2 separate regions of the Homo sapiens genome follow, and region 1 is linked to region 2. The links come from fine-mapping of genetic effects on gene expression. A gene starts in region 2. The other region holds a variant in brackets. All regions are shown on one strand. Distances are between the middles of the regions. Region 1 overlaps CARMAL (coronary artery disease region linked MFGE8 regulatory lncRNA). Region 2 holds the start of CARMAL (coronary artery disease region linked MFGE8 regulatory lncRNA).

Evidence for each region. PIP is the estimated chance that this variant, and not a neighbour inherited with it, causes the effect.
Region 1: its variant is fine-mapped to the expression of CARMAL in aorta (GTEx, PIP above 0.99).

What each region holds. Positions count from the first base shown.
Region 1 is chr15:89,063,211-89,079,262 of GRCh38, forward strand. CARMAL (coronary artery disease region linked MFGE8 regulatory lncRNA) reads left to right here. Exons shown (of 4, transcript NR_183882.1): 2 at 6,881-6,981; 3 at 12,086-12,174. It also overlaps a transcript of ABHD2 not described here. Among named protein-coding and RNA genes, the nearest start is that of ABHD2, 17 kb to the right of the region's middle. RefSeq lists enhancers at 5,023-5,072, 5,123-5,172. The variant G/T (reference allele first, on the strand shown) is at 8,834.
Region 2 is chr15:89,032,471-89,048,522 of GRCh38, forward strand. CARMAL (coronary artery disease region linked MFGE8 regulatory lncRNA) reads left to right here and starts at 8,528. Exons shown (of 4, transcript NR_183882.1): 1 at 8,528-8,830. It also overlaps a transcript of ABHD2 not described here.

The sequences.
Region 1 (16,052 bases), 31 kb after region 2:
CCCTGCCTCAGCCTCCTAAAGTGTTGGGATTACAGGTGTGAGCCACTACGCCCGGCCAAAAATTGCTGCTTCTTGATAGAGTATGGAATTCCTTTCTTTTGAGGTCAGGTTTATTTTTTCTTATTACATATGAAAAATTTGCTCATAACCAAAACTCCTAGAATATAGAAAAGCATGAAGTATAAGGAAGTAAATAAAAATCACCAGTAATCTGACTACCAAAAGATAACCACTGCTGACATATTAATATAAGTCCTGCCAGACTCTTTTCCTATATATGCGTTCTCAACTAATCTCTGCCTCTCTCTCTCTCTCTCACACATGCACACACACACAGACACACACACACACATCACATCACACATATAAACACAAAGAGAAAGGGGAGTATTCATACTATACATACAGTTTTTTTATTGTTGTAAAACATAAATAACAAAATTTACCATTTTAAGCATGTTTAGGTGTACAGTCCTATAGCACTAAGTACATTCACATTGTTATACATCTATCACCACGATTCACTTCCAGAACTTTTTCATCTTCTCCAACTGAAACTCTGTACCCATCAAGTCAGTGGTCCCCAACATTTTTGGCACCAGACTGGTTTCATGGAAGACAATTTTTCCACGGACAGGGTGGGTAGCGGGGATGTTTTCAGCATGAAACTGTTCCACCTCTGAAACCACCTTCTGCTGTGCAGCTGTGCAGCTGTGCAGCCTGGTTCTTAACAGGCCACGGACAGGTGCCAGTCCATGGCCCAGGGGTTGAGGACCCCTGCATTAAATAAGAACCCCCATTACCCCTCCCCCAAGCCCCTGACAACCACCATTCTGCTTTTTGTCCCTGCATAATTTGGTGACTTTAGGTATCTCATCTGAGTAGAATCATACAGTATTTGCCCTCTTGTGTCTGGCTTATTTAGCATAATGCCTTTAAGCTTCATCCATGTTATAGCATGTGTCAGAATTTCCTTTCTTTGTATGTATTTATATATAACATTGTGTCCTTTTTTTTTTTTTTTTTTTACACGGAGTCTCATTCTGTTGCCCAGGCTGGAGTGCAGTGGTGCGATCTCTGCTCACTGCAACCTCTGCCTCCCGGGTTTAAGCGATTCTCCTGCCTCAGCCTCCTGAGTAGCTGGGACTACAGACATGTGCTACCACGCCCGGCTAATTTTTTGTATTTTTTGTATTTTTAGTAGAGACGGGGTTTCACCGTGTTAGCCAGGATGGTCTCGATCTCCTGACCTTGTGATCCGCCCACCTCGGCCTCCCAAAGTGCTGGGATTACAGGAGTGAGCTATCGCGCCCGGCCAACATTGTGTTCTTATATTTATCTGTTGATGGACACTTGGTACAAATAGTTCTTTAGGCTGCTTTTTCCACTTAATATATTCTAGACATCATTTCATGTCAACAAAGTAAAATTAAATTATTATTTTTAATGACTATTTGGTATATTGCTCAACAGATATTTTATAAGTTATTTAACTAGATTGCTAACAATGAACACTTGATTATTTACAGTTTTTTTGCTTAATAGACTTTTCAGTGATGAACAATCTTTCCAATTTGTATTGAGAAACATATCACACAGGAGAGCATATAATGTATATGTTAAGCTTCAAGAATGCTAACAAAATGAACAGTCTGTATCCTACTCCCAGCTGAAGAAATAGAGTATTCTCAGAACCTCAGAAGCACCTGCAGGCCCTGCCCCATCTCATTGCCCTCTCATCCCCCGAGAGGGATCACTATTCTGATTTTTGTGTTAACCATTCCCATGCTTTTCTCTGTAATTTTATCATATGAGTATGTACATTCCTCCCCAAAAATATACAGCCTAAATGTAAGTCTACTGGATAAAAGAAAAAACATGGGTGCTATGGGCATCTTGGATCCTGGCCTTCCTTTCCAGACTCAATGCATCCAGTTATTTCCAGCTCAGAGAGCCCCTCCTCCATCATTGGTGTGATTCTCCACCTCCTCCTTCAAGGAAATCCTCCTTCCTACTAGGTTGTTATCAGTTTAGAATACCCCTCCACCTCTGCCTCTACTCCCATCCACCCGTTATGGCAAACTCATTTAGAATCATTGTCCATAGCACATTTTCCAGAAATGTTAATTAAGGGTGTAGAATAACACCATATTAGGAGGCTTCAACAGAATTGTCCAGGGCAGACTTGGGCATCCCCAGTCTCACCACTTGGGAGGTCCTGACCTCTGGTGTATGATATGCCTCCTCTTCCTCCTGAGGGCCTCTTGTTTCTTTTCCTGACAGTCTGTAGCTTACTCTTGGGTAAAATTAATGCCAAACACTCCCTTCCTAAGAACAAACAATGATCTTAGACATTACATTGTTTTAATGCACATGAAGGAGGCATTTCACTAAATGCAGCATAATTGACTAATATCCCTTGTATTTCAAATGAATATAGGCTTTTCCACAATTTTCCAGAGAAGTTTTAGCTTCCCCACTTTGCCTCACCCTCCTTATGTCTATACAGACTCTAGCTTTGGTTATCTTCAAGCATGTGCTAACTCTTTCCTTCCAGAAGCCCCCCATGATATAGAAATAACAGCACTCTGCTTGCTTCTGTCCTAATGCAGGATCCCAGGGAAAAGGAAGACTTCCTTGGTAATTGCAGAGAATGGAATCTGAGGCTAGTATACTGGTATTATCTACCATTTACATAATACCTGCTATGTTCCTGGCACTTTACATACATTATCTGAAGAGTACATTTTATTACTTTTGCACATAAGGAAACTCGGGTTCAATCATGCATCCAAAGACATTAACGAGTGAATGATTGATTCAGAGTTTGGACCAGGTGTGTGCATCACTAAAATGTTTGTGTTTGTGACCATTCCTCTATATCCTCTCTTTGGAAAGAGAAAGCTATGCAATATTTAGGATTTTTTCCCTGAGTTTCCTAGATCTGCTGTAACAAAGTACCACAAACCTGGGGGCTTAAAACAACGGAAATTTGTTCTCTCACAGTTCTGGAGGCTAGAAGTTCAAAATCATGGTTCCTTCTGAGGGGTATGAAGGAGGATCCCTTTCTTGCCTCTCTCCTCTCTTCAGGTAGTTGCTGGCAATCCTTAGTGGTATTGGTTTGTAGATGCATCATTCCAGCATCTGCACTTGGCCCTCTTCCCTGTGTATCTCTCCGTATTCAAATCTCCTCCTCCTTTCTCTTATAAAGATACCAGTCTTTGGCCTTAGGGCCTACCTTAATCCAGTATGACCTCATCTTAACTTGATTACATCTGCAAAAGACCCTATTTCCAAATAAGGTCACATTCACAGATACCAGGGGTTAGGACTTGAACATATATTTTGGGGGGACACAATTCAACCCAATACCTTGGGCATCCTTGTCACCAAGGCATTCTCCTATCATATTTCCTTCCCAAGGCCTGGAGGAACATGGCTGCCTGCTCACACAAGTAAATAGGAGGTGCTGGAGGTCTTAAGCCACAGCAGGAGGGCTGGGCAGAAACCTGTGCTCAGCAAGATACCTTTTCAGTGAAGGGTACCTGTTGCGGCAGGCCAAGAGAGCCACGGGCCAGCCAAGAGGCCAAGTCAAGCTGTAGTGAAACAGTTCCCTTTGGTGTCTGCAGCTGAGTGCCTGATTGCACAGTGGCATGGCACAGCTGTGTTAGTCGTCCTTTCTCCAGATGCCATGAAGTCTGGAAAATGTGTCTGGATACTTGTGAGGTCACCATACTTAGGGAGTTTGGACTCTGAATAAACAAGCGGCAGAAAGTCTTGAGATTCACAGCTCTTTCTGCTCCAGATTCTATACAGTTGAGGAAGGAGATGTGAATTGATGGTGGGGCCCCATGTTGGGGTGATCAGACCCAACACCAGGCCATGGGGGCTACGAAGTCCAGTGGAGTTAAAGGAATGAGACAAGACAAGAGTGCATAAAGTGGGATCAGGGGGCCAATGCTAGTATGGAGGCTGCTAAGGCCCGGAGCTCTGGAAGCCCACACTATTTATTGGTGATCAAACAAAGAAGCAGGTGGTGAGGATGTGGGGGTTGAAAGAAAGCAGTGTATCAAGCACATGATCTACAACTGTGACAGTTTAGCATTTTCTTTGAAGCATATGGAACATGTTCTGCTACTTGAGATAATGGGAAACATGTTCTTCTAGTTTAAGTTACAATCGATCTAATAGCCTGGGAGTGCTAGAAGCAAGAAGCCAGCAAGTCTAGACACATTCCAGAGGCCACAAGGAGTTTTAAGCCCTGAGCCCTGGATTCTGTCCAAGCCACAAGGGGTTTTATGCCCTGGGCTTAGATTGTGGTGTGGCAGGGCAGGTTTCCACCCTTTGGCACAGAGCTTGGTGTTCCAAAGGCCATGAGGGGTTTTAGACCCTGGACCCCAGGCATGTTCCAAGACTGTTTTACATTATGTCAGCCATGCAAGCCCTGCCTCAGCCTTTTTCCCAATACTCAGCTTTTCTCGAACACCCCAGATGTCTTCTGTGAGACCTGGCTGGAGTTCTACAGCACCTCCTGCCTGCTACTATCCTAACACTCTGTGGAGCAAACTCTATTCACTTGTTCTCCATCTTTTCCTTCTGGGCTCTGAGAGTCCAAACCTTGAGGTAGGTACCATGACACATTGGGGTCTCCACTCACAGCCTGATGCCTGTAGATGATCAGCCACTGTGTAATGAATGAACTCATTCTTCAATAAACCAGTGAATGATCACATGAAAGAAACGGTCTAGTGGGACTCTCTGGCCACAAATACTGAATCACCTTCCTCTTCTTTACCATAGAAGAAGGGAGAATTTCTTTCTCAAAGACCAAACCCTAGACTTCATAGTCTTTTTCTGTTTTTCTCCCCTACAGGACTTCTACCCCTCAGGGTCTCCCACAGAGCATTCTGTGGGCAACTAACCATCTAATGTTATTTTTATAGGGCCCAAGGGAGAAATTCTTATACATACACACATGTGCGCGTGCACACACACACACACACACACACACAAACTCTGTGTGTGTGCATGTATAAATGATTTCAGTTATGTACTGCTACATAACAAACCACCCCTAATGTAAGTAGCACAAAACAACCATTTTATTTTGCATACAGAGTCTTTGAGTCAGGAAATTAGACAGCAACTAGCAGGGGTGGCTAGCCTCTGCTCCCTGGTGTCTGAGACCTCAGCTGGAAAGACTTGAAAGCTGAGAATGACTCAACAATTGGGGGCTAGAGTCATCCGGAGGCGTCTTCACCCACATGTCTGGTGGTTTGGCTGGAACCTCAGCTGGGCTTTCAGCCCAAACACCTACACGTGGTCCCTCCATGTGTTCTCTCCACACGGGCTAGCTGGGCTTCATCAGACTAGCTGGTAACTGGGGTCCAAGGGAAGGTGTCCCGAGAAAGCAAAGCACAAGTGCATGGCATTTTTATGACCTGGCCTCAGAAGTCACAGAGCACCATATGGCATCATATGATATTGGTCAAGGTTACAGAGTTTTCCCAGGTTCAAGGCATGAGGAAGTGGGCAAGCTTCCTCTTTTTTTTTTTTTTTTTTTTTTTTTTTTTGTCAAGAGGGAGTCTCTCTCTGTTGCCCAGGCTGGAGTGCAGTGACTAGATCTTAGCTCACTGCAACCTCCACCTCCCGGGTTCAAGTGATTCTCCTGCCTCAGCCTCCTGAGTAGCTGGGACTACAGGCGCATGCCACCACACCCTGCTAATTTTTGTATTTTTAGTAGAAATGGGGTTTCACCATATTGGCCAGGCTGGTCTTGAACTCCTGACCTTGTGATCCACTCACCTCAGCCTCCCAAAGGCAAGCTTCTAGAACAGCACATGGACAGAAGATATTGGTATGTCACTTGGAAAACAGTCTGGCAAGCTCTTTTTTTCTTTTCTTTTCTTTTCTTTTTTTTTTTTTTTTTTAAAGAGATAGGATCTCTCTCTGTTGCCCAGGCTGGAGCACAGTGGCACAATCATAGCTCACTGCAGCCTCAAACTCCTGGGCTCACAAGCAATCCTCCTGTCTCAGTCTCTAGAGCAACTGGAACTATAGGCATGCACAACCACGCCTGGCTAATTAAGTAAATTTTTTTAAAGATGAGGTCTCACTATTTTTCCAAGGCTGGCCTCAAACTCCTGGCCTCAAATGATTCTCCCACTTCAGCCTTCCAAGTAACTGGGATTACAGGCATAATCTTTTTCTTTAAGTTGTAAAATTCACACACAAGACAGTAAATATAATTTAGTAGTTTAGAACTCTCCAATTGTGTTTCTCTGACCCTCGATCGAAAGTAACCACCCTTGTGAGTTTTGTGTTACTCATGTTCTTGCTTTCTTTATAATTTTGCCACTCCAGGTTTTTTCCTAAATAATATATTGTTTAGTTTTGCCTGCTTGCAAACTTTGTAAAAATGGAATCACACAGAAGCATTCTCCTGTCATCTTGTTCATTTACTCTTTTTTTTTTTTTTTTTTTTTTTGAGATGGAATCTTGCTCTGTCACCCAGGCTGGAGTGCAGTGGCATGATCTCAGCTTACTGCAACCTCTGCCTCCCAGGTTCAAGTGATTCTCCTGCCTCAGCCTCCCAAGTAGCTGGGATTACAGGTGCGTACCACCATGCATGGCTAATTTTTGTATTTTTAGTAGAGACAGGGTTTCACCATGTTGGCCAGGTTAGTCTTGAACTCCTGGCCTCAAGTGATCCACCTGCCTCGACCTCCCAAAGTGCTGGGATTATAGGCATGAGCCACCATGCCCTGCTATTTACTCTTGTATCATGAAGAAAGGGTAGGCTTGGTTGTGTTGTGGTAACAAACATCACCAAAATCTCAGTGGCTTATAACTCCAGTTATTTCTCACTTATACTATACAGATGTTGTGGATTGGCTGTAACTCTGCTCTGGGATCCAGGCTGAAGGAGCAGGCTCTATCTGGAACATTACTAGTCTCCAGGCAGAAGAAAAAGAGACAATGGTGAGCCATGTGATTTTTCTTCAAACTCCTCCTCAGAAGTGACATGTGTTCATTCTGCTCCCATTCTATTGGCCAAAGCAAGTCACATGGCTAAGCCTAAGTTCAGTGGGTTACAAATATAATCCCTATGTAGAAAGCGACCTGGAAGGAACACTCCTAGAGGGGCAACAGATATTTTGAAATAGTATCACAAGCTACCGTAGTATCCCTCCTTGTCACAATTATTTGCATCCCTAATACAAGCATCAGACATTAAGTCCAAGATCTCATGGTAGTTCCTACATTGGGTCTGGATGTGGTTTCCTCTTGGTCTGGAGATGCGGAACTAAGAAGTCTAGTTATCAGCCCTCCACATACCCCATGGGCCAAAGAAGAACAGGGATGGGGTAATCTCAATAAACACTCAGCAGATCTGGGGGAAGGCCTGAGGTTCTGCATTTCTAACATTATTTAGAAAGGAAAGAATGAGAGACATGATATTGGTCAAGGTTACACAGTGTTTACAGGTTCAAGGCATGAGGGAGTGGGCAAGCCTCTAGAATAGCATGTGGACAGCAGATATGGGTAATCATTGATCTATGGACATCTTGAAATTCCACTGGGCTGACATCATAAGGGGCCCCCTATCCTGGGGATAGGGAATATTTCTAGATTAGGTCTTAGTCCTGCCCCTGGAGGAAGGGGGTTCCTCATGCCATTCTCTTTCATGGCCTTTGGCTCTGCCGTCCGGAAGGGCCTTCCTTTTCTATTTTCCTCCTAATGAAGGCGTGTGCCTTCCTGAAGTGTGCCCCCCGCTTGCTCTCTGTGGTAGACTGCATTATTAAATACTCATTGCTCCTCTCCATGGGTCTGTTTTGCTGAACCCTAATTAACCTCAGTAGGGAAGGCACCAGGTTCAAGAGGTCAAAGAAGAGACCCAAAGGTAGCAAATAAGACATGGGGTTTTGGCCGGGCACGGTGGCTCACACCTGTGATCCCAGCACTTTGGGAGGCCAAGGCGAGTGGATCACCTGAGGTCAGGAGTTCAAGACCAGCCTGGCCAACATGGTGAAACCCCATCTCTACTAAAAATATAAAAAATTAGCTGGGCATGGTGTCAAGCGCCTATAATCCCAGCTACTTGGGAGGCTGAGGCAGGAGAACCGCTTGAACCCGGGAGGTGGAGGTTGCAGTGAGCCAAGATTGTGCCTTTGCATTCCAGCCTGGGCAACAAGAGCAAAACCCCGTCTCAAAAGAAAAAAAAAGACATAGGGTTTTATTTGGGGCTTACATACAGGGGAGAGTCTCCAGCAGTGGCAGACTGGACAGGAAAAACGCAACCACTTGCAAACAGCATGCAGTTTATACAGTATTTTCACTTAAAACCCTCCCCTTAACAACCTTCACCTGGTAACCTGCATTTAACCTAAAACAAATGGCCTCCATCCCTTATACGGCCCACATTCCACCAGACAGGAAGGGAGTGGGGTGGAGCTCACATGTTCCTCATAGACAGGAAGGAATCTCTGGGTTGGCCACTCCCAGATTCCCTAGCTCAGAGCACACACTCAGGTGCGTCTGCCATACAGGGTCATTCTAAGGGTATGCTTAAGTTATTGCTATTGGGTATGTTTATCCTACAGGGTCCCTCAATACTGGACGATTATAATGCTCACTCCCTGATGACAAACTTGGTCATATGACTTTTTTGGCCAATGGAAGTGGTGCATGCCACTTTCGGGTAGAAGCTTTATTGTAGGGTGACCAACCTCAGTTACCTGAAGACGAAGACTATTCTGGTTTTAACACTAAAGTGTTGTGTCCCAGGAAACCCCCAGTCCTGGGCAAACTGGGATAGCTGGTCACCCAAGCT[G/T]TAAGAGTCATGTCACACTTTTATTTTTTTCCTTTTTGAGGAGAACAAAAATGTCTCCGTTAGAAACCTCCTATGAGCCTTGGTCACAGAATGAGGAGGAAGATAGCTGACCTCGATGGATATGTAATGCAAATAAGAAACAAATGTTTGGGCCAGGTGCAGTGGCTCATGCCTGTAATCCCAGAACTCTGGGAGACCGAGGCAGGTGCATCACTTGAGGTCAGGATTTTGAGACCAGCCTGACCAACATGGCGAAACCCTGTCTCTACTAAAAATACAAAAATTAGCCAGGCATGGTGGTGGGGGCCTGTAGTCCCAGCTACTCGGGAGTCTGAGGCACAAGAATCACTTGAACCCAGGAGGCAGAAGTTGCAGTTAGCTGAGATTGTGCCACTGCTCTCCAGCCTGGGTGACAGAGCAAGACTCGGTCTCAAAAGAGGAAAGGAGGGGAAGGAGAAGGGGAAGGGGAAGGATGAGCAGGAGGGGGAGGGGAAGGGGAAGGATGAGCAGGAGGGGGAGAGGAAGGGGAAGGGGAGGGAAGAAAAGGAGAGGGGAGGGGAGGGAAGGGAAAGTTAAGTTTGGGGTTTATTTAGCCACTGAGTTGAGAAGGTCATTTGTTACTGCAGGATAACTTAGCCTAAGCTGACTGAGGCAGCTCTACATGATATCTTTGGTATTCACCCATTCATCCATTTCTTATTGATGTCTGACAAGTTCTGCCTCTTCTTGCCCTCAATATGGTTATGCCAAGCTTCTCCTTGGAACTTCAGTACTTTTGTGAGTAGAGCTGCCAAGTAAAATACAAAATGCTCAGCTAAATTTGAAATTCAGATAAACAATACATAATTTTAGAAACTTTTCCTAAATTTAAATTGATCATATTAATAAAATTTAATTTTTAACTAGTAAGTTTGCTAAACCTGTTTTCACTACTTAAAATAATTTTATAAGTATAGCCCACACAATATTTGAGACATACTTATACTAAAAAAGTATTTGCTCTTTATCTGAAATTCAAATTTAACTAGGCATTCTGTATTTTCATTTGCTAAATCTAGCAAGCCTAGTTGTGAGGAAAGCACTTTTTGAGGGGCCTGGGACAAAGAATATACTCAGAAAATTCCCACTTCTACAGAGAGCAGCATTGTGGAGCAATGCTAAACTTAATCTATCATCAGATTTATGGGGAGCTTTAAAAAAGGGACCTAGGTGTGAGCTCAGACCTGATTAGCTAGAAACTTGTGTGGAATATCTGGGGAATCTGTAGTTTTTGAGACAGTCTTGCTCTGTTGCCCAGGCTGGAGTGCAGTGGTACGATCTTGGCTCACTGCAACTTCCGCCTCCTAGGTTCAAGCGATTCTCCTGCCTCAGCCTCCCAAGTAGCTAGGATTACAGGTGCCCACGACCATGCCTGGTAATTTTTTTGTATTTTTAGTAGAGACAGAATGTCACAATGTTGGCCAGGCTGGTCTCGAACTCCTGACCTCAGGTGATCCACCCTCCTCGGCCTCCCAAAGTGCTGGGATTACAGGGAATCTGTAGTTTTCTTTTAAAAAGTGTGTTAATTCTGATCATTGGCCAGGTTTGGAAACTAGTGGCCTCACGCACTACTTCTCAAACTCTAACCATGCGAAGCATCTCGGGATCTTGCCAAACACAAATTCTGATTCAGCAGGTCTTGGGGGACCTGAGGTTCTGCATTTCTAATATCATGATATCGATCCTACACATCTGTGGATCACACTGAGTAGCAAGATTTCAGAGCGGTGGGTCTCAAACTTGAACCACCTGGAGGGCTTATTAAACCGCATTGCTGGCCCCACCCCAGCGTTTTTTACTTAGTAGATTAGAACTACTCTTTTTGTTAGAAAAGCTCCCAGGTGTTTCCGATGCTGCTGCTGTGGGACCCACACTCAGAATCACAGTGCTAGGAGAAAGAGAAAGGGCTTTGGGATTGGCGGACCTGAATTAAATTCCATCCCAGCAAGCGGGTCACCTCTGACAGATTTCTTACATTGGTTCTCCACTCTGTACATAAGAGTCACCTGGGCCGGGCATGGTGGCTCACGCCTGTAATCCCAGCACTTTGGGAGGCCGAGGTAGGTGGATCACCTAAGGTCAAGAGTTCAAGACCAGCCTGACCAACATGGGGAAACCCAGTCTCTACTAAAAATACACAAAAATTATCAGGGCGTGATGGCGTGCTCCTGTAATCCCAGCTACTCCGGAGGCTGAGGCAGAAGAATGGCTTGAACCCGGGCGGTGGAGGTTGCAGTGAGCAGAGATCATGACACTGCATCCAGCCTGGGGGGCAAGAGCGAAACTCCATCTGAAAAAAAAAAAAAGAGTCACCTGAAGATCTTAAACAATTCTGATGCCAGTGTTCTTTCCCAGATCAAATTAAATCAGGAAAGCTGGGAGTGAGACCCAGATGCACTGTTTTAACAAATTCCTCAGGGGATTCTAATGTGTCACCAGGTGGAAAACCACTGAAACACTGAGCCATTCTCCTTATCTGAAAATGAAGACTGAGGATTAAGTGTAATGGAAATGAAAGAGTCTGGCATAAGGCAGGCACCCGAAGTGGCTGCTATGACTCCTCCACTTTCTAGCCTTCCCTTCCATCTTAGAGGAAGAGCTGCCCCCAGGCCTGTATGAGGTTCACCTGTCTCCAACCCCTCCCCAACAAAGAAAAGAACCTAGCTTGCTTTGTCATTTTCTTCTGGAACATTGCCTCTCACCAGCGTCTCAAGTCTACTTCCACTAGCTCTTCCCTATCTGTCTTTTAAAATATGCTGAACTCCGCCATCACTCAATCTTGCTGTCATCCTGTTTCCTGCCTCATATCACTGATAACATTTCTCAAGCAAGTGGCCTACAGCGGTACCAATTCCTGGCTTCTCCTTAACCCTCAGGAGAAAAAGCCTCATTCCCTTCACCCCCAACCCTAAACTTTAGTACAGAGACACCCAAAGTTTATCAAAAGTGTTTGAATGGCCAAACCCAGAGGCCTTTTCTCGGTAATTCTTCTCTTTCAATTCAATTGAACAAGCGTGTTTTAGTGCCTACTATCACTTGGGTACAAAGAGGAATAAGTCACCCTCCTTGGCCTCAAGGGGTAGGGCTTGGGAGCAGCTATCATGTAAGTAAGGCAATACCTGAGATAGGAACTGTGAGGTAAAGTGTGAATGATGTGGGTTCTGGCCCCCAGCACTCAGCCTTATCATAGGTCTTTGCATCTACATCTATTAGGAATGGATGATTGAATGGATGAATGAACTCCACAGGAAGATGAGGAAAGCCTTTATGGATGGAGTGAGCTTGCAGCAGAGTCTCAAAGGGTGAGTAGAGTTTTCCAGGTAGGGAAGTGTGTGGGTGAGTAGTCCAGATCGAGTCAAAGGTATGGGAGCAAGGAACGGCCTGGTGCATTCCAGAAGTGTTGATAATGTCACTGGCTGACTCGGAGGGTGTGAAGGGGAGGAGAAGGAGGGAAGGCTAGAGAGGGAAGGTAGAAAGGAAGTGGAGGCGAAAAAAGATGCTGAAGGGCCTCCTGTACCTCCAGGAAGAGTTTGAATGTTATCATTTGGGCAATGGGAAGCTATTCCTGGGTCTTCACAAGGGAATCAGTTGGTGAGAACTGCTGTTTAGAAAGACAGCCCTGGCAGCAACTCAAGCGCTGGGAGAGGACAGAACCACCAGGGAAGAGGGTATGGGGAAGAAGAGCAGCAGGCTGAGGACAGGCCCAGGACTGAAGAATCAGGCACAGGAAGAAGAGTCCATGGGGCAGGCTGTGAAATGGACAAAGGAAAACCAGAGGTGCTTCCCAAGCAGGGGGCCTGGCCACCAGAGTCCCAAGCTACCAAGATGTCAAGTAAAGAAGAACTGAAAGCCAACTGCTGGATGCAGCAGTGAGTGGGGGTCACAGTGGCCTTTGCCAGAACTGTTCCAGTGGAGGAGTAGAGGAAGAGAGAAAACCACAGGAGCAGGCATCGCAAGCTCATGCTCCACCCACACGTCCCCTTTCTCCTTTAGTCCTGTGACCCATGTGCTTGCTCTCTTTCTCTCTCAAAGGAGATCCAAATTTAAAAATATGGAGCCAAGGGAATCAGTTCCTTTGCGAACACACTGAACGTTAGTTTTCTTCTTCTCTTTTGCAAAAACTTCTTATTTCACAAAATACTCAAACAAATAGACAAAGTACAGTGAAGTCCAGGTAGATATCATCCACCTTCAGCAATGATCAATCCATGGCCAATCTTTCATCTCAACACTCGTATCCTCATTCTTGTGGAGCAAATGCCAGACATTCTTTCATCCATCAGTATGTCAATATGTATCTCTGAAATAGAAGGACTTTTTATAAAACATAATCATAATATAATTAATATTCATTCCCCAATTGTTTTGTTATTGTCTTTTACAGTTTAATTTTTGTTTTGTTTTGTTTCGTTTCTTTTTGAGACAGGATCTTGCTCTGTTACCCAGGCTGGAGTGCAGTGGTGCGATCATGACCCATTGCAGCCTCTACCTCCTGGGCTCAGGTGATCTTCCCACCTCAGCCTCCCAAGTAGCTGGGACTACAGGTGCATGCCACCATGTCCAGCTACTTTTTTGTATTTTTGTAGAGATGAGGTCTCACCATGTTGCCCAGGCCAGTCTCAAACTCCTGGGCTCAAGTGATCCACTTGCCCCAGCCTTCCAAAGTGCTAGGATTACAGGCATGATCCATAATACCCAGCTACGGTTTGTTTTCATTTGGATGCTAATAAGACCCATACATTCCATTTGGTTGATCTATCTCTTCAATTTCTTTTAAATTTATAATTTTATAAGGTCCCCTTCCACATTTTTCTTTGTGGAAGAGGAGAAAAGACCCTTGTTCTCTGGATCACTCTGTGGTTAAGGGGGTAGGTCCTCAAATCAGATGCCCTGGTTCTATTTTGCTTTCTTGTTTTTTAGTACTTTTTGTTTGTTACCTACACACAGAAAAGTACATGAATCATAAGTGAGCAGCTTGATGAATTTTCATAAGTGAACACACCTGTGTAACCACCACCCAGCTCAGGAACAGGGCATCACTGGCACCCAAGAACCCCCTCTCAGGCCCTTTCCCAGTCTCTACCACCTCACAAAGGTCAGGTGACTTTTTCACACCACAGCCATGTGTTACCTCTTTTTGAACTTTATATAAATAAAATCATAGCATACATTTCTTGGATGACTGGCTTCTTTCACTCACCTTTATGCTGGTGGCATGCTTATCGTAATGATTTGTTCATTCCCAATGCTGCATAGTATTCCATTGAATATGAATGTTCTACAATCTGTTTATCCATTCTAGTGTTGATGGACATTTGGACAGTTTACAATCTTAAGCTATTACGAATGGTGCTATTGTGAATGTTATTGTCCGTGTGTTTCTTTGGGTACATACTTAAGAATGAGAATTATGCATGCTCATGTTGCCAAGGTTTTAATTTTGGGTTTACTTAATATCACTTTTGTGACCTCAAGCACATTATTTTACCTCTCTGGCCTCAGTTTCTTAATCTGTAAAACAGGCATAATCATATTCACCCTGTGGAGTTATTGGGAGGATTAAATATTTAAAAAAATCTAAAACTCTTAGAATCGTGCTTGTCTCTTAGTAAGGGTTTTATAAATGTTAGCTGTCAACCCTTCCTCCCTTTGTGGTGGTAACTTCTCAAGCTCCTTCACTGTTTTTCTCCTCCTGCCAAGTTTCATTCTCCCAAGTTCAAGTTAACCTGGTCTGCTTTTCTTTCTCTCTGAAACTTGTCTATGCCTATGACTTCCATTATCTTGTACTGTGGACAGCTTTTGCAACGTGTTACCTAGAAACTATGACTCCAAATCCCCTTGTCTACAAAACTCAGCCTCTCCCCTGCTTACCAATGCTCCCTTTCTAGTAATGATGTCATATTTTCCCTTTCCCTTGAATATATGTGTCACCAAAATCTCAACAGATCTAAAGTAAATTTACCTTTCTCTCCCATATTAGAACCACCTTGGGATCATCTCTGACCCTTCTCTCTTTCTTGCACCCCATATTTAATCTGTGGGGAAGTCCTGAAGAATCTATGCTCACATCACTGTTATTCTTTTCTTTTTACTTCCACTGTCTAGTTCAGGCCCTTAACAACTTACATTGAAACTAATGCAATAACCTGTTATCTCTTCTACCTGGCTCCAACCTCTCCTATTTCTAATTTTCTCTGAACATTGCCTCCAGATTAATTGGACTAAAATATGGCTTCATAATAAATCATCATGATAGGGCATATAACTGTGAAAAGAAAATAAAGCCTTGGGACCCCAAACTCACTATGTCAAAGGGAAAAATTAAGCTTGGAAACTGAGTCACACAAAAACTGCCTTCCTTTTGCTCCTAAACAGATCGTTGCATTTGGATATTTGGACTGTTTACAACCTTAAGCTATTACAAATGGCGCTATTATGAACGTTATTGTCCATGTTTTTCTCTGGGTACTTAGTTAGGAATGAGTATGTGATAACGGAAGGCCATCTATCTCCCCAGGTGGCCTTCCTCACAATTGCTTACAAGGAAATTTTTTGTGGGTCCCAAATCTTTCAGAATACATATCCTCCTGATGAACTACCCCTAAAACACAGTTCTGTTGAATCTCACCCTGACAATGTAGGCTTTTTTTTTTTCTTTTTTTTTTTCTTGTGAGACAGAGTCTTGTCATCCAGGCTGGAGTGCAGTGGCACGATCTTGGCTCACTACAACCTCTGCCTCCCAGATTCAAGCAATTCTCCTGTCTCAGCCTCCTGAATAACTGGGACTCCAGGTGCCTGCCACCAAGCCTGGCTAATTTTTTGTACTTTTAATAGACATGGGCATTTCACCATGTTGCCCAGGCTCATCTCGAACTCCTGACCTCAAGTGATCCACCTGCCTCAGCCTCCCAAAGTGCTGGGATTACAGGCATGAGTCACTGTGCCTGGCCAACTATGTAGATTAACATCTTATCTTCACAGGTATGAGACAAAGACCAGACTAGAAATAATTCCTCTGCCCACCCAAGACAAATGCATATTAGATTTCTTCCTCTACTCTGTGTTTACATATTTTATGTAAAATGTAGATTTACCAAGCAAGAAAACTAACATAATTGACTGTTCCTCTACCCGCCCCTTTCACATGTAAAATGTAGATTCAGCGAGTGCTAATCAAAGC
Region 2 (16,052 bases):
GATGTCAGCAAGGTTTTCATAAAGTTCCTTGGGCTGTTTCCACGAACAGGATGGAGCTTGTAGGCTGAGGAGTATGACTATTGGTTTCTCGCTGATGGAAACCCATCATATCCTACAAGAACTGATGAGTAGATCCTTGGCAGTCTGAAGCTTCTTGCTGCAAAGCTGGGTCCTCAGTCTCTCCTTGTTCAACCTTTTGTCAATGATTTAGATGAAGGTACAGAAAATAGGCTGGGAGGGACAGCTAATATCTTAAGGATGGCGTCATGATCCAAAGGAATTTCCACAGGCTGGCTATAGCAACTGACCGAAGTGTAGTCCTCAGACTAGCACTATCAGCGTCACCTGGGAACTTGTTAGACATGCAAATTCTTAGGCTCCACCTCAGACTTATTGAAATCAGAAACTCCAGGAGTGGGACCCAGAAATCTCTTTTTTTTCTTTCTTTCTTTCTTTTTTTTTTTTTTTTTTTTTTTTTGAGACAGAGTCTCACTCCATTGCCCAGGCTGGAGTGCAGTGGCGTGATCTTGGCTCACTGCAACCTCTGCACCCCAGTTCAAGCAATTCTCTTGCCTCAGTCTCTTGAGTAGCTGGGGCTACAGATGCCCGCCACCATGCCCGGTTAATTTTTGTATTTTTAGTAGAGACGGGGTTTCGACATGTTGACCACGCTGGTCTCGAACTCCTGACCTCAAGTGATCCACCCACCTCAGCCTCCCAAAATACTGGGATTAAGGCATGAGCCACCGCGCCCAGCAGAAATCTGTGTTTTAGTAAGCCCTCCAGGTGGCTCTGATGCACACTAGAATTTGAAAATCAAAGTTTTAGACCTGTGGGCTGACTCCAACAGCCTCTTATTCAACAGGGATAAATGTAAGCCTTCCCATCATCTCCACCCATCCCTTCACACCCAAATAAGAAAAAAAAAAAACAGTTACAAATGAGGAGCATAAGTCATTTAATAGTATTTGTGGAAAAGGCTCCGAAGTTTTAGAGATTTTTGTTTTCTTTTGTTTTTTACTATAACCTTGAAACATAGAGCCTTCCAAAAAGGCAAGTCAGTCTTTTTTTTTTTTTTTTTTTTTTTTTGAGACAGGGTCTTGCTCTGTTGCCCAGGCTGGAATGCAGTGGTGTGATCATAGCTCACTGAAGCCTAGACCTCCCAGGCTCCAGCCATCTCCCGTCCTCAGCCTCCTGAGTAGCTGGAACCACTGGCAAGCACCACCATGCCTGGCTAGCTTTTAAATTTTTTGTAGAGATGGGGTTTTGCCATGTTTCCTCGAACTTCTGGGGTCAAGTGATCCTCCTGCCTTGGCCTCCAAAGTGCTGGGACTACAGACATGAGCCACTGCACCCAGCCAAGCCAAGGCAATTTTTTTTTTTTTAATTTGAGACAGAGTCTCGCTCTTGTCACCCAGGCTGTAATATGATGACACGTTCTCAGCTCACTGCAACCTCCACCTCCTGGGTTCAAGCAATTCTCCTGCCTCAGCCTCCCGAATAGCTAGGATTACAGGTGCCCGCCACCATGCCTGGCTAATTTTTGTATTTTTAATAGAGATAGGGTTTCACCATGTTGGCCAAGGTGGTCTTGAACTCCTGACCTCAGGTGATCTACCCGCCTTGGCTTCCCAAAGTGCTGGGATTACAGATATAAGCCACCACCAAGCCAAGTCAATCTTAAATTACATTAAAAACAGTGTCTACTATCACTGAGTAGTACACAAGTGATTCAGAGATTTGGGGTTTGGGTCCTGGGATTACAAAATAGAAGATACAATGAAATATCTCCCTCCCATTTATTCTCTAGCCATCCAGTTCCTACCCCAGAAGCAGCCTATTTTGTTACCATATTTCATTGACTTCTAAGATATACATGTTTTTTCACATTTTAACATCTCTGAAATCAGGATGTGTCTTACAATAGCTGTCAGCTAGGTGGCTCTCATCACATTGATACCATTGCCTGCACTTGAGCAAACTTGGCTATAGCTTTGGTATTGTCATCATTTCAAATGATTTATGTGCATTGTTGACGCTACATGCGCTGACTTTACTTGCTATTTAAAATATCTTCAAAAAGACGGTACTATCAGCATTTAAATGAAAGGTCACTGTGGATGCAGAAAGTTACAGAAACAACAGTGAGGTGCAAAATTGATATTAGTGAAGCGAATTTATGAATTGTTAGAGTAATGATTTCCATTCCATATTTTCTTGCAGAGCAACCATTGAGAGGTTTTCAGCAGCAGTACCTCTCTGACTGCAATGTGCACACAAATCCGCTGGGATCTGGATAAAACACAGATTTTGATTCACTAAGTCTGGCATGGGTCAGATTCCACATTTCTTTTTTTTTTTTTTTTTTTTTTTTTGAGATGGAGTCTTGCTCTGTCACCCAGGCTGGAGTGCAATGGTGCGATCTCTGCTAACTGCAACCTCAGCCTCCCGGGTTCAAGCGATTCTCCTGCCTCAGCTTCCCAAGTAGCTGGGACTACAGGCACATACCCCCACGCCTGGCTAATTTTTTGTACTTTTAGTAGAGACAGGGTTTCACCATGTTGGCCAGGCTGGTCTCGAACTCCTGACCTCATGATCTGCCCACCTCCGCCTCCCAAAGTGCTGGGATTACAGGTGTGAGCCACGGCGTCTGGCCTCAGATTCCACGTTTCTAACAAGCCCTCTGGTGATATTGATGCTGCTGATGCATGCTTGGTCCATTTGAGGACCCCAAAGTGGAAGATACCCAAAAGAGAAAAAGGAATGTTACCTACTCAAATTCATGCCAGACAATGCAATTTAAGACTGGGGAAATTGCCAGATCTCTCAGAATAGATGCAAGAAATTTCAAAGCCATGAAGGGCTGGTGTGATCAATCATGTGTCATGCAAGGCTGTCGTTATGGCATCATGTCATATAGTTAACTGGCAGTCTTTTTTTAAATAGACTTTATCTTTTAGAGCAGTTTTAGTTCACAGCAAAATTTAGAAGTACAGAGCGTTCTCATACACTCCCTGGCCCTACACATACACAGCCTCCCCCACTATCAACATTCTGCAACAGAGAGGTAAATTTGTTATAATCAATGAACCTACATTGACACATTATTATCACCCAAAGCCCATTTCTTTTAGTGCTGAATAATATTCCATTGTCTGGAAGTACCTATAGTTTATTTACACATTCACCTACTGAAGGACATCTTGCTTGCTTCCACATTTTGATGATTATAAATAAAGCTGATTATAAACATCCATGGGCAGATTTCTGTGTGGACACCAGTTTTTAATTCATTTGGGTCAATACCAAGCAGCACAATTGCTAGTTCATATGGTAAAAGTATATTTAGTTTTGTAAGAAACCGCCAAATTAGGCTGGGAGTGGTGACTCATGCCTACAATCTCAACACTTTGGAAGTCCAAGGTAGGAAGATCACGAGTCCAGGAGTCTGAGACCAGCCTGGGCAACATAGGAAGACTCTGTCTCTACAAAATTTTTGTTTTAGAAATTAGCCTGGTATGGTAGCACATGCCTGTAGTCCCAGCTATTCAGGAGGCTGAGGTGGGAGGATTGTTTGAGCCCAGGAGTTAGAGACTGCAGTTAGCCGTGATCTTGCCACTGCACTCCAGCCTGGGTGACAGGGCAAGCCCCTGTCTCAAAAAAAAAAAAAAAAAAAAAGAAAAGAAACCATCAAATTGTCTTCCAAAGAGCCTGAAGAACCTGTAGCATTTTGCGTTCCCATCAGCAATGAATGAGAGTTCATTCATTCACACTGATTCAATGAGATGACCCAAATCCAGAACACTGACAACACTAAATGCTGGTGAGGATGTGGAGCAACACACGTGTTTGGGTCCTCGCATTGTTGATCTAATTTGAAGTTCCCTGATGACACATGATGTGGAGCATCTTTTCACATGCTTACTTCATTTGTAAAATCTTTGGTGAGGTGTCTGTTCCAGTCGCTTGTCCATTTTTCAGCTGGGTTGTTCATTTTCTTATTGTTGAGCTTTAACAGTTCTTTGTATATTTTGGATAACAATCTTTTATCAGGTGTCTTTTCCAAATACTTTTTCCCAGTTGGTGGCTTGTCTTCTAATTCTCTTGACAGTGTTTTTCACAGAGCAGAAGTTTCTCTAATTTATTGAAGTCCAATTTATCAATGATTTCTTTCATGGTTAATGCCTGTGGTGTTGCATCAAAAAAGTCATGTCCATACGCAACATCATCCAGATTTCCTCCTTTGTTGTCTTCTAGAAGTTTTATAGTTTAGTGCTTTACATATAGGTCTGTGAGCCATTTCGACTTCATTTTTATGAAGGGTGCAAGGTCTGTGTCTGAATTCTTTTTTTTTTTATTTGCATATGGATGTCCAGTTGTTCCAGGACCATTTGTTGAAAATACTGTCTTTTTTTCCATTGTATTATCCTTGCTCCTTTATCAAACATCAGTTGAGTATAGCTATGTGGGTCTGTTTCTGGGCTCTCTATTCTGTTCTATTCATCTATTTGCCTATTCTTTTATCAATATCACAGTCTCTTGATTACCGTGGCTTTATAGTAAGCCTTGAAGTTGGGTAGTATCAGTCCTCCGACTTCTTCTTCTTCTTCAACATTGTGTTGGCTATTCTGAATCTTTTGCCTCTCCGTTTAGCAGTCTTTTTTCTTTCTTGTGCATGCAACAATGGTATATCTTATAATTGAGGGCATCTTAGATCTGATGAAATATGAGAGTTCCTCATGGATATTTCTAGAGATATCTTGTGCCTATAAAAGCATATACATAAAAGTATTATTTTTCTCTCAGCCGGGCACAGTGGCTCATGCATGTAATCCCAGCACTTTGGGAGGCCGAGGCAGGCGGATCACCTGAGGTCAGGAGTTCGAGACCAGCCTAACATGGTGAAACCCCATCTCTACTAAAAATACAAAAATTAGCCGGGCATAGTGGTGGGCACCTGTAATCCCAGCTACTCAGGAGGCTGAGGCAGGAGAATCACTTGAACTCGGGAGGCAGAGGTTGCACTGAGCCAAGATTGCGCCATTGCACTCCAACCTGGGCGACAGAGCGAGACTCCGTCTCAAAAAAAAAAGAGAGAAAAAGGATTATTTTTCTCTCAAGTTTATTTGTTTGGAAAACAATAATTTATTGCTCTTCCTTCCAAGTCTTTGTGAATTTACAGAAAAAAAACAAAAACAAAAACAAAAAAACAAAAAGATCAACGTTTACAGACTGTTCAGTTCAGACTAAGAATGCCAGAGATGAGTACCTGTACTGCCGTGGCTGCCGGCTACATGGCACCAATGTTCCCCAGCAGATATGCGCTAAAGTTTAAAACAAGCCCCCTCCAGATTTGTATTATCACCTTCAGAAAGGCTGTATTCCTCACACTGCATCTCACACGACATACTCAGGTCGTTAGTCACATCTGAAAATAAACTGGCCAATAAATGTGTTTCCTTCTGTGCATCTACTTTCCACGAGGCTTCATATTCAATCCACCACCTTTTTAGCCACATTTTCTCTTCTGCTGTTTGTGCTAGAAGTTGTTGCTGTTGGGCTTCTCTGTGTTTTGCCATAAATTGGAGCAAGTTCCAAGCACCAACTACCTTCCTCTTCTCATTTTCTGCTGCTTTTGCAAGTTGGTCCACAGGCTCAATTAAACCACCAACTATTTCTGAAATGGACTGATTTTGCCCACAAAATCCATGCAGTCTTCCTTGGGGTCCCTGGTCTGCTACGTAACCTCAGGGTCCCGCACCCAGGCTTGCTCAGCTCATCAAAACACAGTCCTGCTTCACCCAGGCTGTCCTGGCCTGTTTCCCTTCCAGCTTCCCCGCAGAAGAGTGATTCTGCTCTGCAGGGTGACAGTGGCGGCCAGAGGAGGTGTGTCATCGGAAAGAAAAAAGTCTGCTTGATTGTCACAGGGACCGTTCACTTAACACGTATTTCTCGAGTGTGTGAGCATCTAGTCAATGCTGCTAGATGCCAGAGAGGCAAAGATGACTGCACTTGGTCCTAGCCCCTTGGAGCACCTTGTCTGGCACTGGCCCCACTGCTGCAGCCCTGGCTGAGGTCAGCAGGCTGCTCTCCCTCAAGTCAGTGGCCACCAGAGCCTTACCTGCCAGCCCTGTCTGCCACCATGGCTGCTGGGCCTCCCTCAAGCTTATTTTTGATGTCTATATTGTGGGTCAAATTATAAGAGGCTTTAAAAGGATGAGTGTAAATGGAGGTGTCTGTCCCCTAATGGGTGCCCAGAGGAATTTTTCCATGTCAGGTAAGGATACCTTTTTTTCTGAGGCAGGGTCTCACTCTGTCTCCCAGGCTGGAGTGCAAAGGGCGATCACAGCTCACTGCAGCCTCGACCTCCCAGGCTCAAGCAATCCTCCCACCTTTGCTTCCTGAGTAGCTGGGACTACAGGTGCTTGCCATCACAGCCAGCTAATTTTTTTTTTTTTTTTTTGTATGTTTTTGTAGAGATGGGATTTCACCATGTTGCCCAGGCTGGTCTTAAACTCAGCTCAAGCTATCTGGCCCCCTCTGCCTCCCAAAGTGCTGGGATTACAGGCGTGAGCCACTGCGCCTGCCCACCCGCCCCCCACCCCCCGACTTCTTTCTTTTTAAACATTTTTGTAAACTTCTCTCTTTTTAAACATGCACACTCACTCCACCCAAGCCTCTGAAGACAGAATTCTTGACCCTATTGCACTTACGATCTAATAGAAGAGACACAGATATAATATATTATGGTTTGATATGTTCACTGCTAGAAGTTTATGCCAAGTGCTGCTAGAACATAAATAATGGAGCAGTTCATCTTTCCTGGGGATAGGAGCCAGAGCCACAGTGAGCGCTGTTGACTGGGGTCTTAAAATTAAGCTGCATATGCCAAGCAGGGAAAGCGGGAAAGAGCATTGCCAGCAAAGGGAGCAGTATGATCAAAATTCCAAAGCAGTGCGTGCCAAAGGGCGTGTCATGAGCTGGAAAAGGTATGGTAGCACTGGTCAAGATTGCAATTTCAGTGTTCTTTTTTTTTTTTTAATTGAGACAGAGTCTCACTCTGTCACCCAGGCTGGAGTGCAGTGGCGCGATCTCAGCTCGCTGCAACTTCCACCTCCTGGGTTCAAGCAGTTTTCCTGCCTCAGCCTCCGGAGTAGCTGGGATTACAGGCACCCGCCACCACACCCAGCTGATTTTTGTATTTTTAGTAGAGACGGGGTTTCACCGTGTTGGCCAGGCTGGTCTCGAACTCCTGACCTCAAGTGATCCTCTCATCTTGGCCTCCAAAAGTGCTGGGATTACAGGCATGAGTCATGGCACCCGGCCAGTTTCAGGGTTTGTTTGAAATGATCACTTAATGAGTAACTGTCTCCCCTACTAGACTGTAAACTCTATGAGGGCCGGGGCTGGGTCTGTGTTCAACCACACTATGCCCCAGTGCTGAGCATGTCATGGCATTCAAATAAATATCCGTTGGATGGATGAATGGATGGAAGAAAGGAGGGATGAAATTTTTTAATTAAGAGATGTGTGCCAATTTTGGCAAATTTGTCAAAAATTTTGAAGAAAGTTTTTCTCAGTGAATATGAATATATTCCACTTGTGAATCTATTCACAGACTATGGGCTTGCTGGAACCTAAGAGTCATCGAGTAGTTTAGACTTCTTATCAATAGATTTTTATTTATATTCATAAGAGTATATTCTTGAATATATTTACTAATGCATTCATTAACAGTATATATTCGTATTCATTGAAAACATTAAAGAAAAAATTCTTTAGAATGGACAAATCAGAATATTTCACTTTTTTTTTTTTTTTTTTTTTGAGGCAGAGTCTGGCTCTGTTGCCGGGCTGGAGTGCAGTGGCACGATCTTGGCTCACTACAACCTCTGCCTCCTGGATTCAAGCGATTCTCCTGCCTCAGCCTCCCAAGAAGCTGGGACTACAGGTGCGTGCCACCACACCCAGATAATTTTTGTATTTTTAGGAGAGGCGGGGTTTCACCATGTTGGTCAGGGTGGTCTTGATCTCTTGACCTTGTGATCCGCCCGCCTTGGCCTCCCAAAGTGTTGGGATTACAGGCGTGAGACACAGTGCCCAGCCTAGAATATTTCATAAATGTAGCAAATTGGCTTTAGGGAACTTTTTCTGCTTCCAGCATTCAGCAGCTATTTGAAGGGTTTTGGAAGCAAAGGAATGGAGGGAGACAGGACGGCACCCTGAGGGAGACGCAGGGCTGAACGGAGCTGTTCGGGGATAGCTGTGGCTTGAGTGGGTCTGTTGGCTGAAAGGAGGGATTCGTTGAAGAAGGAGCAATGGACGAGGTGAGAGAGAGGATACTGGATGGAACCAGGTTTCAGAGGAGGCTGATGGGAGAATGTGAGGAGCACCAAAGCGAGCCTTAGGAAAAAGAAGTTCAGACAGACAGACACTTCGGTAAACCACAGCTCCCAGTATTCACCACTGTGTGTAGTCTCCTCCCACACTGACTCTGGGCTTGGTCAGCTGACAAGCTTTGGCCAATAGGGCTCTAGCAAGAAGATGCCAGCAGAGGCTTGAAAAGTGCCTACCCCTGGCCTGGGATGCTTCCTCCTGGGATGCTCCCACTTGGAACCCAACTATTGTGCTGCAGAAGTTTAACTTAACTGTGTAAGGAGGCCAAGAGGAGGCCCTGGCTGCCAGCCAGCATCAACTTCCAGTGACGTGAGTGTGCCATTCTGGAACTGGATCCTGCAGCCTCGGTGGAGCAGCCTCAGCTGATGCCATGTGGAACAGAGATGAACTGCCGCTGCCGAGCTCTGCCCACGTTGCAGAATCATGAGCAAATGTGAGTTTTGTGGTTTTAAGCCACGAAGTTTAGAGGTGGTTTGCAATAGAATGGAGGGGACTGCTTTTCTTCTGAGTTTCGGATTGAATTCTGCTTTACTATAACTTATTTATTATATATTTGTAACAATTCTGTCTCCACCCATCAGTATTCACCCGCCTAAGGGCACAGAGGCACCAGGACTCTGGGAACCTTCCTTGATGTCTGGATCTACTGCAGTGACTCTTAGTGCAGCAGTTAAAAGCCAGACTGTCCTAGTGTGAATCCGGCCTTGGCTATTCATTGGCTGGAAGACCTGAGCCAAGCCTGTGCCTCTGTCCGGGCATCTGGGTAGATGTCCTAGGAGTCCACTAAGAAGAAAACTGAGGCCAGTGAGAGGCAGAGTTGAGGCAAGGCGCAACTCTATTCCCCTGCTGGGGAAAGCAGCTCTGCCCCTCGGTCTGCCCTGCTGACCAGGCATGACACACCACCTCATCAGCAGGGCCCACGGCACCCAGACCTGGCCTGGAGGGGCTGAGACAGCATTGCTAGGGGTCAGATGGTCACAGAATAAGCAACCTGAGACCTGGAAGGGCATAAGCATCTTCCCCTACCTGGAATCAGAGGCATAGCTGAGGTCAAACATCAGGGCAGGAGGGCCTGGAGGGGGTCGGAACCAGAGGTCACCCGGGTGTTTGGTTGGGAGGGGCGTCCATCTTTATCTTATCCATCACCATCACCATTATTGCTAAACATACAGTGAGCATTACTATGTGCCGAGCACTCATCTAAGCCCTTTATACTTCTAAACTTCTAAACTTATCCTCATAGCCACTTTTGGACACCAGTACATTATTGTCTCCACATCATAGCTGAGGACTCAAGGGACAGAGGGGTTTTGTAACCTGCTGAAGAACATGCAGCAGCTGCATAGCATAGCCAGGATTTGAACCCTGGCAGCCTGGATCCAGAGCCTGCTTAGGACCACTCAGTGACACTATTGAGGATTTCAGCCACCTTCTCCATAACACTATAGTCTTGCTTTTACCCTACTCCCTCAAACATCTTTTTACCAGGTCAACATTAGCTTAAAAACTGAGACACTTTTCTTATTGAAGCACATGCTCCAAGTACACCCTCTCTGCTCCCCAATTAGACCATCATTCCTGCCTTCCCTCCGTCTTATCTCTTCTAAATCCTTACACCGAGTGCCACCTCCTCCATGAAGATTTCCTGTCCTGGTTACTTCCCACCTGGAAATTTATACCTTCTCTCTTTCTTTTTTATTTCCTTTTCTTTCTTTCTTTCTTATTTATTTATTTATTTATTTATTTATTTATTTATTTATTTATTTTGGAGACTTTTTGTTTTTTCTTTTCTTTTTCGAGACAGAGTCTTGCTCTGTCGCCCAGACTGGAGTACAGTGGGGTGATCTTGGCTCACTCTAGCCTCTGCCTCCCGGGTTCAAGTGACTCTCATGCCTCAGCCTCCCAAGTAGCTGGGACTACAGGTGTGTGCCACAAAGCCTGGCTAATTTTTTTTTTCTTTTTTTCTTTTTTTGCATTTTTAGTAGAGGTAAGGTTTCACTGTGTTGGCCAGGCTGGCCTCAAGCTCCTGGCCTCAAGTGATCCACCCGCCTCAACTTCCCAAAGTGCTGGTATTACAGGCATAAGCCACGGCGCCCGGCCTATACCTTCTTTCTTAATTTGCCCAGCACCATTTGTTTCCTCCACTAGTACATATTCCACGGCTTGCCGTAATCTGCTTTGATGCCTATGCTGACCACTGGGATGAGCCCCAGGGGCCCTCCCTTCACCATTCTGACAAATGTTCTTCCCAAAACCATGGGAGTAGCTAGGAAAAGGTAACCAACAGGGCTGTGGAGAAGACAGACAGAAGTAAGACATACAGTCCCTCAGAAGGTGGCAGCCAACCCTGCCTGAGCTCTTCTAGCACCCTAGGGGGGCAAGTTTGCTTTCAGCAGAAGAGCTGGGGTTTGGGCTGGGCATGGTGGCTCATGCCTGTAGTCCCAGCTACTGAGGAGGCTGAGGTGGGAGGATTACTTTAGCCCAGGAATTCAAGGTTAGGGTGAGCTATCTTTGTGCCACTGCACTTCAGCCTGGGCAACAGATCAAGACCCTATCTCTTTTTTAAAGAAGAAGAAGAAGGAGGAGGAGGAGAAGGAGAAGGAGAAGGAGAGGAAGAAGGGGGAGGGGGAGGAAAAGAAAGAGGAAGGAGGAAGAGGAGGGAGGAGGGGAAGGGAAAGAGGAAGGAGGAGGAGAGGAAGAGGAAGAAAAGAAGAAGAGGAAGAAGGAGGAGGAGAGGAGGAGGAGACGAGGAGGCGGAAGGAGGAGGAGGAGGAGGAAGGAGAAGGAGGAGGAGGAGAGGGAGGAGGAGAAGGAGGAGGGGGAGGAGGAGGAGAGGAGGAGGAAGAGGAGGGAGAAGGAGGAGGGGGAGAAGGAGGAGGAGGAAGAGGAGAAGAAGAAGGAGGAGGAGGAGATCTAGAGTTGAAGGCAATCTACAAGGTATATCAGCTTGGGATAAATATTTTGATATATTCATCTATGAGTTTTGTTCCCCTCCTCTTTGTATTTTTCTCTTTTCTTTTTTTTTCCTTTTTTTAATTTTTTATTATTATTATACTTTAAGTTTTAGGGTACATGTGCACAATGTGCAGGTTAGTTACATATGTATACATGTGCCATGCTGGTGTGCTGCACCCACTAACTCGTCATCTAGCATTAGGTATATCTCCCAATGCTATCCCTCCCCACTTCCCCCAACCCACAACAGGCCCCAGAGTGTGATGTTCCCCTTCCTGTGTCCATGTGTTCTCATTGTTCAATTCCCACCTATGAGTGAGAATATGCAGAGTTTGGTTTTTTGTTCTTGCGATAGTTTACTGAGAGTGATGATTTCCAGTTTCATCCATGTCCCTACAAAGGACATGAACTCATCATTTTTTATAGTTGCATGGTATTCCATGGTGTATATGTGCCACATTTTCTTAATCCAGTCTATCATTGTTGGACATCTGGGTAGGTTCCAAGTCTTTGCTATTGTGAATAATGCCGCAATAAACATAGGTGTGCATGTGTCTTTATAGCAGCATGATTTATAGTCCTTTGGGTATATACCCAGTAATGGGATGGCTGGGTCAAATGGTATTTCTAGTTCTAGAGCCCTGAGGAATCGCCACACTGAATTCCACAATGGTTGAACTAGTTTACAGTCCCACCAACAGTGTAAAAGTGTTCCTATTTCTCCACATCCTCTCCAGCACCTGTTGTTTCCTGACTTTTTAATGATTGCCATTCTAACTGGTGTGAGATGGTATCTCATTGTGGTTTTGATTTGCATTTCTCTGATGGCCAGTGATGGTGAGCATTTTTTCATGTGTTTTTTGGCTGCATAAATGTCTTCTTTTGAGAAGTGTCTGTTCACGTCCTTCGCCCACTTTTTGATGGGGTTGTTTGTTTTTTTCTTGTAAATTTGTTTGAGTTCATTGTAGATTCTGGATATTAGCCCCTTGTCAGATGAGTAGGTTGTGAAAATTTCCTCCCATTTTGTAGGTTGCCTGTTCACTCTGATGGTAGTTTCTTTTGCTGTTCAGAAGCTCTTTAGTTTAATTAGATCCCATTTGTCAATTTTGGCTTTTGTTGCCATTGCTTTTGGTGTTTTAGACATGAAGTCCTTGCCCATGCCTATGTCCTGAATGGTAAAGCCTAGGTTTTCTTCTAGGGTTTTTATGGTTTTAGGTCTAACGTTTAAGTCTTTAATCCACCTTGAATTGATTTTTGTATAAGGTGTAAGGAAGGGATGCAGTTTCAGCTTTCTACATATGGCTAGCCCGTTTTCCCAGCACCATTTATTAAATAGGGAATCCTTTCCCCATTGCTTGTTTTTCTCAGGTTTGTCAAAGATCAGATAGTTGTAGATATGCGGCGTTATTTCTGAGGGCTCTGTTCTGTTCCATTGATCTATATCTCTGTTTTGGTACCAGTACCATGCTGTTTTGGTTACTGTAGCCTTGTAGTATAGTTTGAAGTCAGGTAGTGTGACGCCTCCAGCTTTGTTCTTTTGGCTTAGGATTGACTTGGCGATGCAGGCTCTTTTTTGGTTCCATATGAACTTTAGTTTTTTCCAATTCTGTGAAGAAAGTCATTGGTAGCTTGATGGGGATGGCATTGAATCTATAAATTACCTTGGGCAGTATGGCCATTTTCACAATATTGATTCTTCCTACTCATGAGCATGGAGTGTTCTTCCATTTGTTTGTATCCTCTTTTATTTCCTTGAGCAGTGGTTTGTAGTTCTCCTTGAAGAGGTCCTTCACATCCCTTGTAAGTTGTATTCCTAGGTATTTTATTCTCTTTGAAGCAATTGTGAATGGGAGTTCACTCATGATTTGGCTCTCTGTCTGTTGTTGGTGTATGAGAATGCTTGTGATTTTTGTACATTGATTTTGTATCCTGAGACTTTGCTGAAGTTGCTTATCAGCTTAAGGAGATTTTGGGCTGAGACAATGGGGTTTTCTAGATATACAATCATGTCACCTGCAAACAGCGACAATTTGACTTCCTCTTTTCCTAATTGAATACCCTTTATTTCCTTCTCCTGCCTGATTGCCCTGGCCAGAACTTCCAACACTATGTTGAATAGGAGTGGTGAGAGAGGGCATCCCTGTCTTGTGCCAGTTTTCAAAGGAAATGCTTCCAGTTTTTGCCCATTCAGTATGATATTGGCTGTGGGTTTGTCATAGATAGCTCTTATTATTTTGAAATACGTCCCATCAGTACCTAATTTATTGAGAGTTTTTAGCATGAAGATTTGTTGAATTTTGTCAAAGGCCTTTTCTGCATCTATTGAGATAATCATGTGGTTTTTGTCTTTGGTTCTGTTTATGTGCTGGATTACGTTTATTGATTTGCGTATATTGAACCAGCCTTGCATCCCAGGGATGAAGTCCACTTGATCATGGTGGATAAGCTTTTTGATGTGCTGCTGGATTTGGTTTGCCAGTATTTTACTGAGGATTTTTGCATCGATGTTCATCAAGGATATTGGTCTAAAATTCTCTTTTTTGGTTGTGTCTCTGCCCGGCTTTGGTATCAGGATGATGCTGGCCTCATAAAATGAGTTAGGGAGGATTCCCTCTTTTTCTATTGATTGGAATAGTTTCAGAAGGAATGGTACCAGTTCCTCCTTGTACCTCTGGTAGAATTTGGCTGTGAATCCATCTGGTCCTGGACTCTTTTTGGTTGGTAAGCTATTGATTATTGCCACAATTTCAGCTCCTGTTATTGGTCTATTCAGAGATTCAACTTCTTCCTGGTTTAGTCTTGGGAGAGTGTATGTGTCGAGGAATTTATCCATTTCTTCTAGATTTTCTAGTTTTATTTGCGTAGAGGTGTTTGTAGTATTCTCTGATGGTAGTTTGTAGTTCTGTGGGATCGGTGGTGATATCCCCTTTATCATTTTTTATTGCATCTATTTGATTCTTCTCTCTTTTTTTCTTATTAGTCTTGCTAGCGGTTTATCAATTTTGTTGATCCTTTCAAAAAACCAGCTCCTGGATTCATTAATTTTTGAAGGGTTTTTTGTGTCTCTATTTCCTTCAGTTCTGCTCTGATTTTAGTTATTTCTTGCCTTCTGCTAGCTTTTGAATGTGTTTGCTCTTGCTTTTCTAGTTCTTTTAATTGTGATGTTAGGGTTTCAATTTTGGATCTTTCCTGCTTTCTCTTGTGGGCATTTAGTGCTATAAATTTCCCTCTACACACTGCTTTGAATGCGTCCCAGAGATTCTGGTATGTTGTGTCTTTGTTCTCGTTGGTTTCAAAGAACATCTTTATTTCTGCCTTCATTTCGTTATGTACCCAGTAGTCATTCAAGAGCAGGTTGTTCAGTTTCCATGTAGTTGAGCGGTTTTAAGTGAGATTCTTAATCCTGAGTTCTAGTTTGATTGCACTGTGGTCTGAGAGATAGTTTGTTATAATTTCTGTTCTTTTACATTTGCTGAGGAGAGCTTTACTTCCAAGTATGTGGTCAATTTTGGAATAGGTGTGGTGTGGTGCTGAAAAAAATGTATATTCTGTTGATTTGGGGTGGAGAGTTCTGTAGATATCTATTAGGTCCAGTTGGTGCAGAGCTGAGTTCAATTCCTGGGTATCCTTGTTGACTTTCTGTCTCATTGATCTGTCTAATGTTGACAGTGGGGTGTTAAAGTCTCCCATTATTAATGTGTGGGAGTCTAAGTCTCCTTGTAGGTCACTCAGGACTTGCTTTATGAATCTGGGTGCTCCTGTATTGGGTGCATATATATTTAGGATAGTCAGCTCTTCTTGTTGAATTGATCCCTTTACCATTATGTAATGGCCTTCTTTGTCTCTTTTGATCTTTGTTGGTTTAAAGTCTGTTTTATCAGAGCCTAGGATTGCAACCCCTGCCTTTTTTTGTTTTCCATTTGCTTGATAGATCTTCCTCCATACTTTTATTTTGAGCCTATGTGTGTCTCTGCATGTGAGATGGGTTTCCTGAATACAGCACACTGATGGGTCTTGACTCTTTATCCAATTTGCCAGTCTGTGTCTTTTAATTGGAGCATTTAGTCCATTTACATTTAAAGTTAATATTGTTATGTGTGAATTTGATCCTGTCATTATGATGTTAGCTGGTTATTTTGCTCGATAGTTCATGCAGTTTCTTCCTAGTCTCGATGGTCTTTACATTTTGGGCATGATTTTGCAGCAGCTGGTACCGGTTGTTCCTTTCCATGTTTAGCGCTTCCTTCAGGAGCTCTTTTAGGGCAGGCCTGGTGGTGAGAAAATCTCTCAGCATTTGCTTGTCTGTAAAGTATTTTATTTCTCCTTCACTTATGAAGCTTAGTTTGGCTGGATATGAAATTCTGGGTTGAAAATTCTTTTCTTTAAGAATGTTGAATATTGGCCCCCACTCTCTTCTGGCTTGTAGAGTTTCTGCCGAGAGATCCGCTGTTAGTCTGATGGGCTTCCCTTTGAGGGTAACCCAACCTTTCTCTCTGGCTGCCCTTAACATTTTTCCTTCATTTCAACTTTGGTGAATCTGACAATTATGTGTCTTGGAGTTGCTCTTCTCGAGGAGTATCTTTGTGGCGTTCTCTGTATTTCCTGAATCTGAACGTTGGCCTGCCTTGCTAGATTGGGGAAGTTCTCCTGGATAATATCCTGCAGAGTGTTTTCCAATTTGGTTCCATTCTCCCCGTCAC